2 separate regions of the Homo sapiens genome follow, and region 1 is linked to region 2. Evidence: fine-mapped expression QTL. A gene starts in region 2. The other region holds a variant in brackets. All regions are shown on one strand. Distances are from middle to middle. Region 1 has its middle 240 kb from the start of MIR3146. Region 2 holds the start of TWIST1 (twist family bHLH transcription factor 1).

Evidence for each region. PIP is the estimated chance that this variant, and not a neighbour inherited with it, causes the effect.
Region 1: its variant is fine-mapped to the expression of TWIST1 in ileum (GTEx, PIP 0.97).

The regions. Positions count from the first base shown.
Region 1 is chr7:19,465,415-19,473,758 of GRCh38, reverse strand. No RefSeq gene overlaps it. Among named protein-coding and RNA genes, the nearest start is that of MIR3146, 240 kb to the left of the region's middle. The variant A/G (reference allele first, on the strand shown) is at 3,512.
Region 2 is chr7:19,113,323-19,121,666 of GRCh38, reverse strand. TWIST1 (twist family bHLH transcription factor 1) reads left to right here and starts at 4,031. Exons shown (of 2, transcript NM_000474.4): 1 at 4,031-4,996; 2 at 5,536-6,199. The coding sequence starts at 4,346. The coding sequence ends at 4,954. RefSeq lists enhancers at 2,021-2,884, 3,958-4,741, 4,765-5,024.

The sequences.
Region 1 (8,344 bases), 350 kb before region 2:
GGTGTTGTATCTACAAACATCACTATATCCTAACTCATCTAGGCTTTCTTCTGTGTTATTGTCTAAAACTTTCTATGACTTTTGTAGTTTGTATATTGCATTTAGGTCTGTGATTCATTTTTAATTTTTTTATTCCACTGTAAGATCTATGTCTAGATTTTATTTGAACATGTGGTTGTTGAGTTGTTCCAGCACCATTTGTTGAAAAGGCATGTTTTCTCCATTGTATTGCCTTTGTTCCTTTAACAAAGATTAGTTGATGATATTTATTGGGTCTATTTCTGGGCTATTTTTTCAATTGACCTATTTGTTTATTCTTTCAACAATACCACAGTCTCAATGACTGTAGCTTTATGATAAGCATTGAAGTCATGTAGTGTCAGTCCTCCAACTTTGTCCTTCACCTTCAATATTGTGTTGACTATTCTGGGTGTTTCTCCTCCCCATCTAAATGCTAGAATCTGTTTGTCAATATCTGCAAAATAACTGTCTGGGATTTTGACTAGGATTGCATTGAATCTGTAGATCAAGTTAGAAAGAACTTACAACTTGGTAATATTGGGTCTTCCTTTTCATCAAAGTATTTCTATTTATTTAGTTCTTCCTTGATTTCATTCAGATTTTTTGTCGTCTTCCTCATATAGATCTTGAACATATTTTGTTAGATTTGTTTCTGTTTAATCTTTGGGGTGCTAATGTAAATGGTAACGTGTCTTAATTTCAACTTCCGATTGGTCATTGCTGGTATATAGGGCAATAATTGACTTTTGTGTATTAACCTTGTTTCCTACAACCTTGCTATAATTGCTCATTAGTTCCTGAAGTTATTTTTGTCAATTCTTTCAGATTTTCTACATAGGCAACCATGTCATTTGTGAAGAAACTAAGTTTTATTTCTTCTTTCCCAATCTTTACAGTTTTTACTTTATTTTCTTGTCTCACTATATTAAGTAGGACATCCATTACAATGTGGAAAAGCTGTGGTAGGAAGAGACATCCTTGCCTTGTTCCTAATCTTGGTGAGAAAGATTCTATTTTGTCATCATTAAGTATAATGTAAGCTGTAATTTTTATGTAGATATTTTCATTTACCTCTATTTCTATTTCATCATGAATGGACATTAAACTTTATCAGATGCTTTTTCTGCATCTATTTGTATAATTATGTGATTTTTCTTCTTTTGCCTTTTGATGAAATAGATTATATTAATTGATTTTTGAATGCTGACCCAGCCGTGCATACCTGGGGTATATCCCCACTTGTTCATGGTGTGCAATACTTTATTACATTGTTGGATGCAATTACTAGGATGTTGAGGATTTTAGAATCAATATTTGTTAGATATTTGTCTGTAGTTTCCTTGTAATGTCTTCTGTTTTGGCATTAGGGTAATGCTGGCCTCAAAGTATGAGTTAGGAAGCATTTCTTATGCTTCTGTCTTCTGGAAGAGATTAGAGAATTTGTAAAATTTTTTTCTTAAAAGTTTGGTAGAATTCTCCAGTGAACTCATCTGGTACTGGTGCTTTCTACAGAATATTATTTATTTATTCAATTTATATAATATAGGCCTATTCAGATTATCTAGTTCTTCTACTGTGAGTTTTGGCTAATTGTGTTTTTCAATAAATTGGTCAATTTCGTCTATGTTATCAAATTTGAGGGAATAGAGTTGCTCATAGTATCATCTTTTGAATGAACATGGAATTTGAAGTGATCGCTCTTCTTTCGTGCCTAATACTAGTAATTTGTGTCTCCTCTCTTCTTAGCCTTGCTTAGTGATTTAATTAAACTTTTTTTTAAAAACCTGCATTTGGTTTTATTGATTTTTGGTTTTTAATTTCATAATATCAGCTCTAATCCATCATATCTAATTTAATTAATCAATTTCAATGTAAAAACTTTACAGCAGTTTTAAGTTCATAGAAAAATTGAAAGGAAGGTAAAAAGATTTTCCATTTGCCCTCCTGGCCCCAGGCATGCATAGCCTCTCCCAATATCAAATCCCCAACCAGAATACTACATTTGTTACAATTCATGAACCTGTATTAACACATTGTAATCACCCAAGATATTTTTATAGATGGAAATTTTTTAAAAAAATATAGCTCTGATAATGATTAACACTGAATGAAATCACATCGATTTTATCTGGTTTTTGTTGTTTTTAAGTTTTTCTCTATCAAAACTATACCTGATTATTCTAAAATTCAAATTGTACAAAAAGTGTAAGGTGAACATTACAACTTAAACTATTCTCACTTTCCAACTTCCCAGTCCAGAAATAACCACAATTAATATTTTGTAGGTATCCATTAATATTGTAAGCATAAACATATGTACATGAATTTCTTACAAATAGGATTCTGCTATCTATATAAATCTGTAACTTGAAAATCTACTTAATCTCTATCATCAGAAAATCTTTACTGGAGTAACATCATTGTTCATGTCAATAGAATGCATAACAAACTTTAATTTAGCTGATGCTCAGTTCCCCACAGCTAAATTTTAGCTACTAAAGATACTTCAGAAGAACCTAGTATTGAGGATAGTAGGTGAGCCAATTTGAAACTTTAATTTAGTTGGTCACGCCTAGAATATTGGAAAATTTGTTGACTGGCTTTGGAATGATGATGTTAAATCAGATCACTGAATTATCACAAATGCAAAATCTCAAACTATTCTTCCCCAAATCTAAAATGATGTATTTTACGTTAAATCTAAGTTCCCTTTTGAAAAATTCCCTCTGGTTTTTCAGACTACCTTAACTTCACCATTAGAATCTGAGATTCAGTCAATGGTTTAGGACAGTCAGAGACAGAGCTCGCAAGAAAATAGGACACTGTGTCGTTGATGAAGGAAGATCCAGTAAAGAACACCATTAACTTTTAGAGCTGTGAAATAATATTTGAGGGTCTATTTATATGTCACCAAAGAAATGGAGGTAAAAGATCAGATTAGTACATTTAGAAATTAGTCTGTGGGCAAACTTATGCACTCTTTTCATTTTTATTTTGAGAGGAATGTGCCTAGGGAAAGAAACACCGGCATCTACATAATGGATGGCACCGTGGAAATGCTGGGCTTCTTTCTGGTGATTATTTAACTTTGAAGAGCAGTGGAGGAACTGTGAAATGAGTTTCATGGCTAGGAGCTCGCCACTCTCATTTAAAAGGCCACTCCATATTTTTTTCAAATATAACTAAACTATTATCTTTTGTGAATAGATCCTTTCACATGATTCAGCCAAAAAATGGATCAAGAGGTTAAACAGTAAAATTAAGGAAAAGCATATTTTCTCATCATATACATGTCCTCAGACTGCCCAAATTCATTTGGAAGGTTTTTAGCATTTGCAAAAATGTACTCTAGGCCATTGTTTTTAAAAGATAGAAACATTCCAGAAATCCCCTGGTAGAGATCATGTTATTAACCAATTGGCGAAATGTTTACAAGAGACGTGGGATTATTTGTATAAAAACTTACAGCCCAAAAATTTATGGCAGTAAT[A/G]TAAACTCATGAACGTCCAGTGCTGCTTGGGGGAATTCTCTGCAGTAGCTAGATGACTGATGATGTGGCAGAGTGTGATAACAAGTACAGCTGTTTCTATAAAAATGTGATCATAACAAGCTAAAGAATAAATCCTCCATAAGAAATCTCTTAAAGTGACAATCTAGTTTACTTGTTTTACTGTAATAGAATTCTATCATCTACTCTTTCCACCCAATGTACAAATTAAGTTTATAATATTTCTTATTCTGGTTCTTCAAATGCCATAAACAAGATAATTTTTCAAGTGTAATATTTTAAAGTAAACCATTTTACAAAGAAATAACAAACGAAATACAACTGTCACAAGTCACAACTCACTCAAGGAAAATATTTTCAGACACTATTACATCATCTTTAGTGATGGAAGTGTCCATGTTTCTTGGGTTTATCTTAAGGTTTGATGATTCCACATCAATTTTGGGAATCCCAGGATATGAAATGTTTTGAACGTTTAAAATTTATGGGTAAAAATTATCTTCATGCTGTGAAACAACCTATAAACAGAATACTAGAGAATATTTTATATATATATGAATTCTAGCTTTTGCTGACACACTTAGACTGGCCATAAGTATGCCCCATACTTAAGCATGCTCCGGAAAATTTGAGTTCTAGTATATGACTTCCCATAGTAAGCAGTGAAAATTCCATCTCTTCAAGTATACTCAAGTTAAAATTAACACATAAATTTAGTTTAATCCTAAAAGAGACTTCTACTAATATTTTCTTTATGAGGGTCAAAATAGGTTTGGCTAGTGTGAGAATTAAACGGCTAATTATTAATTTTATCTGTTATGACACAATAATTTTTGGGACTCAGACAAAGTAATGCAATATTGCCTAATCCATGGGAAGAAATGATAGAGGTTCTGTCAGATGATGCTGGAGTACATAGTGGGGGTGCTAACTTCCAAAGAGAAAGGGTGGTTTTTGATGCTTACTTTAGCCACAGATTTGCCAGTAGGAGCAGTATCAGAGTGGTTGTAACCCTCTGGTTAAAAAAAGGCCCATCACCTACATATCCTGTACTAGTTATAAATGATCTTCATATTGTATAAAATATACTCCTTTACTTCCAAAAATGTTTTAAAAAGTATATACACAACTATTTGTTAACACTAAATTTTAATTTTACATCATTTCCCAGCACCATAATAAATATAAAGGCTATCCTATTCAAATAATTGAATTTTATTATAGCACACATTAGTTTGACACCTGCATGTGCGTGCAGATATTTTTTAACTCAACACATATGTAATAAGCTGGGTCACCATACATCCCAGTTTGACCAGGTCTTGGTTTTTAAATGTTGTGCCAACATAATTATTAAGAGTATCCCTTTTACTCTCAAAAAAACTTTGGATGATAAATCATGTGGCCTCCCTAGTATAAATACATACTTGGATATTTTTGGTTCAATTATATTTACCTGGATTCTCATTTCGGAACTCAAGCACCTTGCTTGTAAGGATGAGGTCTTTGTTATATACATAAAGCAATATAATTATGTAATTTATATTGAAACTTGAAATAACTTGAAAACAATAGACTCCTGTAAGCCATGATGGCACACAGTATTCATTCCATGTAAATTATGATACTATTACTGCTGCTAGTAAAAAAGACAACTGAAAATATTATATTAAATTAGATAATAGTGAAATCTCAGTTACAGGGTGTACAAGCTGCCAGATTATCACACAGGTATGCACACACATAGTTATGAGACTAGAAACTAATCCTTTCCCCAAGCATCAACCCCAACAAGGTTAACTTAGGTAGAGAGACTTTAAGAAGGTCCATTGTGATGGATTGTACAGATTCAGGAAATTGGACCAATGGACCTCAAAAATCACGAGGTTCCTCTATTACTCATAGGAAAAGAGAATTTGGGGATTTCTCATTTTCCTGAAGCACTACAGTTTCTGAACACAATGATTGTGCACACTGCTCATATATAGTTTGTGCTCAATATGTGACGAATGAGTACATGAATGAGTTTGCTGAGTAAAGATAGTATTTATATCCTATACCTCCCCTTGAATCATAATTACTTCCAACAAAAATAGTATAAACGTTAGACTGATTCCATATTTCTAGTTGTAATATGAATTAAATAAACTTCATCTTTTGAATTAACACTGTATATTAACCTTAAAATTATCATACTTAGAATGCTTGAGAATGAGTTACAGAATACAGGAAAAACATGAGAAGATAGATTACCATAATCAAATGCTTAGAGTAAAATACCATCTTAAGTACAAATAGCTAAAATTAAAATTAAAGAAAATACATATAATGAATATTCTATTTTTGCCGATGTAATATTATTCCCTTTAAATTAATACAGTATTTTTTACCCTTAATTTTCTGTAAGTAGTCTTCTAGCATCAGTTTAAAAGTTGACCTACTTTAGTAGTGGCTGTGTTAGTATGAGTTGCATGTCAAGTCATTTAATCTGCCTTCAATATATAAAATAACTTAATTTACCATAAGAATTGAAACCAAGAAGCTAGTACTAATATATACATTATATATAATATATATATTTATGTGTGTGTATATATATGGCAAATAACAAATTACAGTCATATTAATGCAAACTTAAAACCACATCAATATTTCATTATATTGTATTAATATCAGCAAATGTAGCATCATACCTTACAGTCAAATTTTACAAATAGGCTAACTATATAGGGTATGAGTTCCCTCCTATATTTTATATTTGAGGGGGAAGAGAAACAATTGTTCCCATGCTCTCTGGCTCTTTCTCTTTGTGGATTAGGGATATTCTGTATCTTAAATAAATGACCATGTTTGAATAAAAGTAGGCTGCTTCTTTCCAATAAAGTGAGTGTCATTATGGGATAGGAGATTTAGACTGCTTTTTGGTTTATGAAGTTTGGCTTAAGACTTTTCACCTTTGCTTTACTTATTTTTTTTTTTATTATACTTTAAGTTTTAGGGTACATGTGCACATTGTGCAGGTTATTATGTTTTCATTTGTAGTGTTGGGCTTTTTCATGCTTAATTTTTCTGCATTTACAAGCTGAAAGGCTCAATTCATAATGAAATATTTGTAAGCAATATGCACAGTTTCAAAGGCTTTACTAGGTGGCTGCCAAGGAAGCATGTAAAATGGTCAAAGAAAATAAGCCTTTTGGAGAATATTTGTTGGTATGGAAGTAGAGGTTAATGAGGAAATGTGTTTCTATAATAATAATATTAATGCTTTTCATTTATATAGCTGCTTTCCTTAGAATGCTTGAACACTTCACCTCTGCCTTCATTTTCTGATACTTGTCATACATTTTGAATGGTTTTTACAAAGCCATGCTAGGTAAAAGAGAAATGCTACAAATTTATTGCTTCTCAGACATCAAAAAGAGCAATCAGCCTCAGGGTCTAGGTAGCTATTAGGTATGACATATAAATTAGTATGTGCATTCAGACTTTTTCCACTTACAGACAGAACCCTTGGACTTCTGCTCAAACTATAAATCCTAGTTTAGGTATGATCATGTTGGGTGAGTTAGGATAGGAGGCCTCCCAAAAAGGCTGATGCCTGAAAAGCAGAGAGATACAGGCTTTGTTACATTGTCCAAGATTCACCAGTGGGAGCCCCAGTTTCCTTATCTATGTTTTTGGTAACCTTTCTTTGTTCTCAACCCCAAATAGAGAAGTCTTTTTATAATGTTTCACATATGTGTGCATCAAGGCTACATAAATAGTTTCAAGAAACAGGACTTACACCTCAGCCAAATTCCCCAGAAACCATGAGCCCATAAAGAGCAATCGTTTGCAGCCAAAAGAAAATCCACCCAGCCTCTAAATTAACTATTATTCAGTTATCCATTTTTCTTTTTGTGCCACAGAATATTTCATGAAATAAAATTTATATATTTTTTCCACTTACTACTTAGAAAAACCTGATCAAAACCTTGAAAATGAAGGGAACCCATTTAAGTAGATATTTTTTAAAAGATGCTTTGTAAAATCACAAAAAAATCATTAAAAAACATTCATAATGCTTCCCGAGACTTCTGAGTAAGGCTCTTGCAAAGTCATCACCTAAAATAGAAAAGGTTACAGTAATTTCACAGGAGCACACTGTGAAATGATGATAAGACGAGAGGGGAAACAGGCATCACATTCCCCAAGCTTGCATCTCAACAGAGTCATGCTTTCTCTCAAGGGTACAGGAAAAAGCATCTGACCATTATCGTTCTTTCCAGAAACCTGTATTACATTATTCTGTGCTTTTTAAATAATTGAAATGAAAGATATTTTCTACCAAGGACAACTCTGCTTATAATTAACCCTAGGGGCTTATATTTTTCGACTCCATGGATAAAGTTATTACAATGTTGAAATATTGTGCCAAGTGATCACAGGAATATAAAAGCTGGAGGGAATTTCCACCTAGCCAATCTGAATGTAAGTCAGATTTGTTTCTCTTGGGGAAAAGAGATGCACTATTGCCATGACCCAAAATCTCCTACTTTAACTTTCTCTAGGTAACTCCATACATGATTCATGTGCGTAATATAGATAGACTGGGAATACAGGGCTGATGTTTATTAGCATTAGATCCATAAAAGGAAAAATGTACATTGGTTGTTTTTTCATATTCTCAACCACATTTCTAATTATTAAGTAGAAAATAAAATTTTTTTGATGTGACATTAGATTTATTTTGAAATTACTTCATCTTATGCTAATTTAGTTCCATAGATTCTGTCCTTATGATATCACCAGACTAAAACCAATTGAAATTTTGAT
Region 2 (8,344 bases):
AGTTCAGAATGTCAGCTATTTTAAAGATTAACATTTATTTGAAAATTTCACTTGCGGTACTGTTCGCACCCTAATTTATTGTGTTTTTTACTTTTTCGTTTTATTTCTGGATTGAAAACTTCACATTTTATAACTTTAGTTTGTTTTTTTTACTTTTAAAGATATTCAGATAGAAAAATGTAGAATCAGTTGAGTTTATGAATCAAATCATCATTTAAAGAGAAAGAGAATGAGTTTTTATATAGGGAAAGGTGTTCAAACATCATTAAGGCTACCAGGGTCATGAAAGAAGAATAAGCTTTTACACAGTTATTGTGTTGACATACATGACTTTATATTCCACCTTACTAAAATTCTCTCATTTAAACAGCAGTCCCTCTGGAGTGTTCAAAGCAAGATGAAATCTAAGATATACAACCTCATCTGATATTCACTCAATTGCAGCCTTTCTAATTTTCACTCCCTTCCGTGCGAATGCTCCTGTGCACTATTTATGCAATTCAGATAAATTATTTCTCAGAACTCGGAGCCAACAAACAGGTGATAGGCCATCTAAGGTCTGAGGAGAAAGAAGAGTAGGAACAGATTGAGGTACTCACCTTTTATGCAAGCCCAAACTCCAGAATTTACCAGTTGGCTAACCATTCTATAGTGTGTGTTTCTTTTCCGTATCTAAAAGTATTTATAATTGGTTGTTGCTAAGAGAATGTCACAGCATATTCAAACTGCCAGGATACTTAATACTTATTGTATATGTTCAATGTGAGATTTCTAACTCTGTTACTTTTAACAGTATTTTTTGTTTCAATTTTTAACACAGCACACATTCCTCAGGCAGGATTGCAAACATGCCAAGTTTGCAGTTTGAAAACAAAGATCGTTTTGAACTATCCAAGTACAAAAGAAATTTTTTTTTTCAGTTAAATTTTTTTGGGGAGGACTTTACTTTAGAAGGAGGCAAAATGACTGAATTCCAGTTAATCTAGCATTCCCAAAGAAGGTAGTCCCCACTGACATACTTCCAGTTAGGCTAACTTCAGCCTCAAAAGAAAATTTCTAAGATTGTTTTCATGATCTCAAGATTGGGATTTTAGAAAGAAGCTTTCAAATTTAAACTAAACATTGCAGAAGTTGCAATTATTGTTGCATATATAAGAGAATCCAGAATTATACCTGACCTGTCAACAAGTAAAAAGGGAGCCATCCTTGCAAATGTGGAAAAGAAAATTGTTAGGTAAAATGTTAGATAAGAAAGAGCTGTATATGAGCAGACTGGACTCGTCAGCCAGGGCGTGTTGCAGTTTGCAAAGCAGGGAGTATCTAGCTCCAGCCATTTTTTGAGAGGTACCTCCTGGACTACTTTTGCTCCAAAAGTAACATTCAAGCCCCACTTAAGAACTCAAAAGTCGTCTCATCCTCCACTCCCCGGAACAGTTCAAGAGCCATTTCTTCTTAGAACTAGTCATCAATTGTGACTGTGGCTGAAAGAGTCCATGGGCAGGATGGTTCTGGTTAGGTGTTCATTTTGAATTCCCCTCTCAGTATTCTGGCATCAGAGCGTCGCCTGAGCCTTGCGGGGATCCCTGTACCCAATGGCCAGGAGCTCTTCATCAGCTAGAAGTTTAGTGCCGGGAAAAGGGCTGGGCTCACTTGTTTAAGAACCAGTCTTTGAGACTGATGACTTTGCAAGATGGACTGGCTAATGACCCCTGGCTGCTGCGCTGCTGTGGACTTGGTTTCTCCTCTAGCTTGTCCGCTCCCCTCCCCTTCCCAAATTCCCCTTGGTCAGGTAAGATTTCCTTTACACTTTACCCACACTTTCCTGTCTTACTTATCCGTGGCCACAAAGGAAAGAGTCCAATCATTCGATCTCTTTATTTATTTTTGAGAAAAGAGAAAAAAAGAACAAAACAAAAATAAGATTTATCTTTAAAAAAATAGCTGAAGTGGAAAAGGTTTCGAGATTTCTGCAGCCACGTTCTAAATAAGAATTGCAGAATACTGTAAATTCAGATTTACAAAAAGAACACTTGGTGGAGAGTGGGGCAGAATTTCTGCCGCATTCTCTAAGCGCTTCCAAGAGATAAAATCCTGTAGCGGAAGATGCAAACGCAAGGGTGCAGGGGTGACTGTTTTGAGAACTGCTAGAGTGCTACTGAAATTAAGTGGAGGTCAAGTCGAATCTGATTTTCAGACAATTTTACAGTAAGGCAGCGGCTCACTAAACAGGCCAGTTGACAAGCTGTAGTCACTTTCTGAGTATTTCTGTAAAAATGGTAAGGGATCAACTCTGCAATTTGTCCCTCCCATGAAAGCACAGTCTTGTTTACACCTCGCTGGAGAAATAACACTCGCCCTCACTTCTCCCAAAAAGCTGAACCCTTCAGTCGGCCCAAGCAGCTCCACACCCTGAGGTTTCCAAGACCAAAGCTGCGAGTCTCAGCAGGGAACAGCCACGTGGCCTGCCTGCGCCTCGCCTGGGCTCTTGCCTTCAGCTTGAGATATCTGCAGCCGCGAACCTTGCTCCAGCCCAGAAAGGGGCGCTTTGCTCAATTAATTGTTCCCGCCGGCGAGTCCGTACTGAGAAGCCCATGAGCGGACCTTATGTGCAGGGTACTCCAGCGCGGTGCACAAAACTCGTCGCCCCCAAACGCTGCCCCCACCCCAACACTGTGTACTGACTCCAGCTTTTTACTTTGCCATGTAAGGGATGGACCTGAAACGGTTATTTTACCTCAATTCATTTCAAAAAGGAAACAAGTATGGCATTGCAAAAGATGGGCTTCTTATCCAAGGCGACTTCCTTTCTGGTTCACCAACTTTGCTGCTTCCAGTTTGCCAGGATCTACATTAACACCCTCTTTGGGGCTCTTCGTTTTAACTTACAGACAGAAATGCTTAAAATGTTAGCGTATCCAAGCATTTGGAATTGGGGCTCACGAAGCCTAATTGTCCACTGGATGCCCTAGATAGTGGGGGCTGGGGCGGGGGGGGTCTCAGAGCGGGCAGCCCCTATGTCTAGGCGCTATCAAATTCCCACTTCACTCTCTTACAAGCTGGCCTTTCAAGGTCACAATGCGGAGCCTAATTTGGGGGTGGGGATGAAATGGCCACAGGGTCTCTCCCTTGGGTTGGCATTGCCAGCTGTTAGGGCCGCAGCAAAGGCGCTGCGCTGCCCCCCTCTGGCTCTGCTGCCTTTCCCATGGACTGGGTTTCCTTCCACCGAAGAGTGAACTTCTGCCTCTTTCGAGCACCTTCCGAGGCGTAGTCCTTTGGATGTTGGGGAGCGTCAGACTGGGTCGTTGTAGAGGGGAAAGGAGGGCCCAGAAGGGCGAGAGAGCAGGCCGGGACGCAAATCCTCAGCCCCCGCGGCGCGGCCACGTCTTCAGAAACGCCCAGGACCTCCGGGCTGGGCCGCCGCGGTTTGGCCTTTGGAACTCCAAGGGGTTCGTCTACCTGACCATTGGGTGGGCTCCGCGGTTGACACTTTTCTTGGCATGCCCCCCCACCCCGCGCCACACCACCCCCCCAGCCCCAGCAATCCCAAATCGGCCCCACGGACCTAGAGGGCTCTTGGGCGAGATGAGACATCACCCACTGTGTAGAAGCTGTTGCCATTGCTGCTGTCACAGCCACTCCGGATGGGGCTGCCACCGCGGCCAGGACAGTCTCCTCCGACCGCTTCCTGGGCTGCGCTAGGGTTCGGGGGCGCTGCCCGCACGCTCCGGCGGGGAAGGAAATCGCCCCGCGCCCGCCGGAGGAAGGCGACGGGGAGGGAAGGGGGAGGGCGGCTAGGAGGCGGGTGGAGGGGCCGGCCGCCCGGGCCAGGTCGTTTTTGAATGGTTTGGGAGGACGAATTGTTAGACCCCGAGGAAGGGAGGTGGGACGGGGGAGGGGGACTGGAAAGCGGAAACTTTCCTATAAAACTTCGAAAAGTCCCTCCTCCTCACGTCAGGCCAATGACACTGCTGCCCCCAAACTTTCCGCCTGCACGGAGGTATAAGAGCCTCCAAGTCTGCAGCTCTCGCCCAACTCCCAGACACCTCGCGGGCTCTGCAGCACCGGCACCGTTTCCAGGAGGCCTGGCGGGGTGTGCGTCCAGCCGTTGGGCGCTTTCTTTTTGGACCTCGGGGCCATCCACACCGTCCCCTCCCCCTCCCGCCTCCCTCCCCGCCTCCCCCGCGCGCCCTCCCCGCGGAGGTCCCTCCCGTCCGTCCTCCTGCTCTCTCCTCCGCGGGCCGCATCGCCCGGGCCGGCGCCGCGCGCGGGGGAAGCTGGCGGGCTGAGGCGCCCCGCTCTTCTCCTCTGCCCCGGGCCCGCGAGGCCACGCGTCGCCGCTCGAGAGATGATGCAGGACGTGTCCAGCTCGCCAGTCTCGCCGGCCGACGACAGCCTGAGCAACAGCGAGGAAGAGCCAGACCGGCAGCAGCCGCCGAGCGGCAAGCGCGGGGGACGCAAGCGGCGCAGCAGCAGGCGCAGCGCGGGCGGCGGCGCGGGGCCCGGCGGAGCCGCGGGTGGGGGCGTCGGAGGCGGCGACGAGCCGGGCAGCCCGGCCCAGGGCAAGCGCGGCAAGAAGTCTGCGGGCTGTGGCGGCGGCGGCGGCGCGGGCGGCGGCGGCGGCAGCAGCAGCGGCGGCGGGAGTCCGCAGTCTTACGAGGAGCTGCAGACGCAGCGGGTCATGGCCAACGTGCGGGAGCGCCAGCGCACCCAGTCGCTGAACGAGGCGTTCGCCGCGCTGCGGAAGATCATCCCCACGCTGCCCTCGGACAAGCTGAGCAAGATTCAGACCCTCAAGCTGGCGGCCAGGTACATCGACTTCCTCTACCAGGTCCTCCAGAGCGACGAGCTGGACTCCAAGATGGCAAGCTGCAGCTATGTGGCTCACGAGCGGCTCAGCTACGCCTTCTCGGTCTGGAGGATGGAGGGGGCCTGGTCCATGTCCGCGTCCCACTAGCAGGCGGAGCCCCCCACCCCCTCAGCAGGGCCGGAGACCTAGGTAAGGACCGCGCCGCTGCACCCCTTCGCCTCTCAGGTGGCAGACGGCAGGCCGGCCAGGCCGCGGTTCCCAGTCCACCTCGATTTCCTCCCCTCTCCCACTCTCCGCTCAGCCTTCCCACCTCACTTGGCACCGTTGCCTCGCGCCCCCAGCGTCCCCGGAAGGCCGGTCTGACCCCGCTAGGGAGAGCAGTCTCCAGGGGGATGCGCCCTGGTGAGGGGTGTGTGTGCGCGTGAGTGTGCGTGACAGGAGGGGAGACAGAGACACCCAGGGTCACGGGTAAGGACCGTTTTGTCAGCGCCACCCTTTCTTTCGGCTTTCAATTTTTGTTCTCCTTAAAACAAATGTTTTAAAACAAATTCCACCTCCTCCTCCTTTCCACCCACCCACTTCCTCTTGCCCTTGGGCTGAAATCCTTCCAGGTTGTTCAGCTTAATTTCTCAGTGGTGGTGATAAGAACAGTGCTCACTAGTCTTAGAAAACAGCCGCAGAGACCTAAACAATAACCGACTCCCCCCCCCCCCTCTGGGTTTTTGCAGATGTCATTGTTTCCAGAGAAGGAGAAAATGGACAGTCTAGAGACTCTGGAGCTGGATAACTAAAAATAAAAATATATGCCAAAGATTTTCTTGGAAATTAGAAGAGCAAAATCCAAATTCAAAGAAACAGGGCGTGGGGCGCACTTTTAAAAGAGAAAGCGAGACAGGCCCGTGGACAGTGATTCCCAGACGGGCAGCGGCACCATCCTCACACCTCTGCATTCTGATAGAAGTCTGAACAGTTGTTTGTGTTTTTTTTTTTTTTTTTTTTGACGAAGAATGTTTTTATTTTTATTTTTTTCATGCATGCATTCTCAAGAGGTCGTGCCAATCAGCCACTGAAAGGAAAGGCATCACTATGGACTTTCTCTATTTTAAAATGGTAACAATCAGAGGAACTATAAGAACACCTTTAGAAATAAAAATACTGGGATCAAACTGGCCTGCAAAACCATAGTCAGTTAATTCTTTTTTTCATCCTTCCTCTGAGGGGAAAAACAAAAAAAAACTTAAAATACAAAAAACAACATTCTATTTATTTATTGAGGACCCATGGTAAAATGCAAATAGATCCGGTGTCTAAATGCATTCATATTTTTATGATTGTTTTGTAAATATCTTTGTATATTTTTCTGCAATAAATAAATATAAAAAATTTAGAGAACCTTAGAGTTTGGTCTATATTTTTAAAACTAAAGATTAAGTTGGTGGTAAATACCTGCTTGTTTAATTCTAGAGGCACCCAGGAGGGAGGGGGCACTAATATAAACAAAGCAATGAAAAACTCAAATAAAGCAGCTACTGACAGGCACAAGCATGTTATTTTAAAAGACAGCTTTATTATTATTCCAGTTTGGTATTCAGAGGGCTTAGTAGCATCTCTTCATCTCTTACTGTCTCCAAACAGCAAAAACTTAACAAATTTGCTATTCACCTCCTTTTTATTTTGAGGTGATAGTTGTTAAAACAGTTAAATGCAAATAAGGAGTATAAAACCTGCACTATTCTCTTATTATGTACTTTTTGTCATGCTCTTCACTCTTTGTGAAGATTCCTAAATAACAGGTTCTTTTCAGTGAAAACATATATAGTGTTATGAAAATTATCTATACACATATAGAAATGACCAGAAATGCATAGAAAATAAAGTGTAAATCAGCAGAAAAGAGAAAATTCCATTTGTAATTTGCTTAACTCTTCTCTCATGAATGAATATGACGTTTAGTGTCATGTTTGCTAAAAAGAAAAGTTAATATATCGCTATATTGACGCTATTTGGGAAGCATCATTCTTTTTTTATGTGTAAAGAATATAAGGCTGTGGAATAATATACAAAAATGAAGATCCTGAACTTTCAGTATCCTTGGTAACTGGATATAATCACAGTTGGAATAATCACAGTTTTAAATACTACAGCTATGCAGTTACTAGTCAGTTCATTAGCGTTATATTTTATCCAGAATTACACAGAATTTTTCCCTGGTGAGATCATACATACACACACACACAATCTGAAGTTAAGTAAAACAATAATGGGCAAACGGGGGTGTTTGATTTTTTATTTCATTCTGATTATTTGTGGGCCAGGAACATACTGGCTTTTATAATTAACATTATTAGAAATAGTGATTTTGTATCAGTTCTTAGCTTTTACATCCGATTTACTGCATCCAAGTGTAACTGGGGAAGCTTTCAAACTGGAAAATCATTTTGGTGCCTGTTTCAAACAATGACTAATAAGTGTATGTATCCAAACAGATCGTTTTTGCTTAGCTCAGGTCAAAGTTATTTTATTGCCTGAAGGTTTTTGTTTTCTTCTTCACACAGCACCATAGAATGCTGACATAAGAATATTATGAATTTATTGTTAATATTTCAGACTATATTTTACAATAAGGAGTCTGCAGCATTGACTTGTATTAAAAGGTTAGTGAAAGCTTGGAGAAGTATTATTATTTTTTTATTTTGATAGTCCTTTAGCAAATAACAGAAAGGGAAGGCGATTATGTGTTGGTGTATTTGTTGGGGGTGTGTGTGTGTTGTGTGTAAGGCAGGTTAGAAATGTAAGGAGGGTGCCCTAGGAGGATGAGGGAAAGCATTAGGTTGGTAATTCTTTTTTGTATGTATCATCCAACCACCTCCATTTTCTAAATTATTCATGGGGAGTCTCCTTGTTCACTAGCTTGGTCTGACTATTTGATATTTCAGATTTCTTAAGGTACACCAGGATGGAGCTGGCCATGACTGCTGAGAAGGTAATTGTTATCTTAACTCTGGATATAAGAACTAGATGTGTCAAAGAAAGGTAGCTCTCCATTTGCCTTTCTTTTATTTCTTTCTTTTTTTAATGTGTTTTGCTTTTTCTACTTTTTTCATAAGGGGAAACACTTTGGAGAAAAGCAAATGCCATATTTATAGTAATATTAAATACTAATCTGAAGGTAATGTTTCCCCCCAGATTTTCAGAGAAATAAATGAATGAAAAAGGTGGTAATTTTATTTTGAATGAGGCGACTGCACAATGAAAAATATTAACTACTGGAATGCAGTTTCCAGCTTGCAGATTCTAATCCCTACCCCTGTATACACAAGACATAAATCGTGAAATTCTTTTTTAGAATAGAAATGAAGCCACCTGTTTCTTTTCCTCCACCATTATATCTTCTTTTGATTTTATGTTATTTCATTTTATTTTTGCTACCTACCCTTATTTAAAGAACACATAGAATGAATTACCTCTTGTTTTCGGAAATAAGAAGCTAAGGCTTTCCAATTAATGTGTTGGTTCACTTGGGATCTTTTTCCTTCA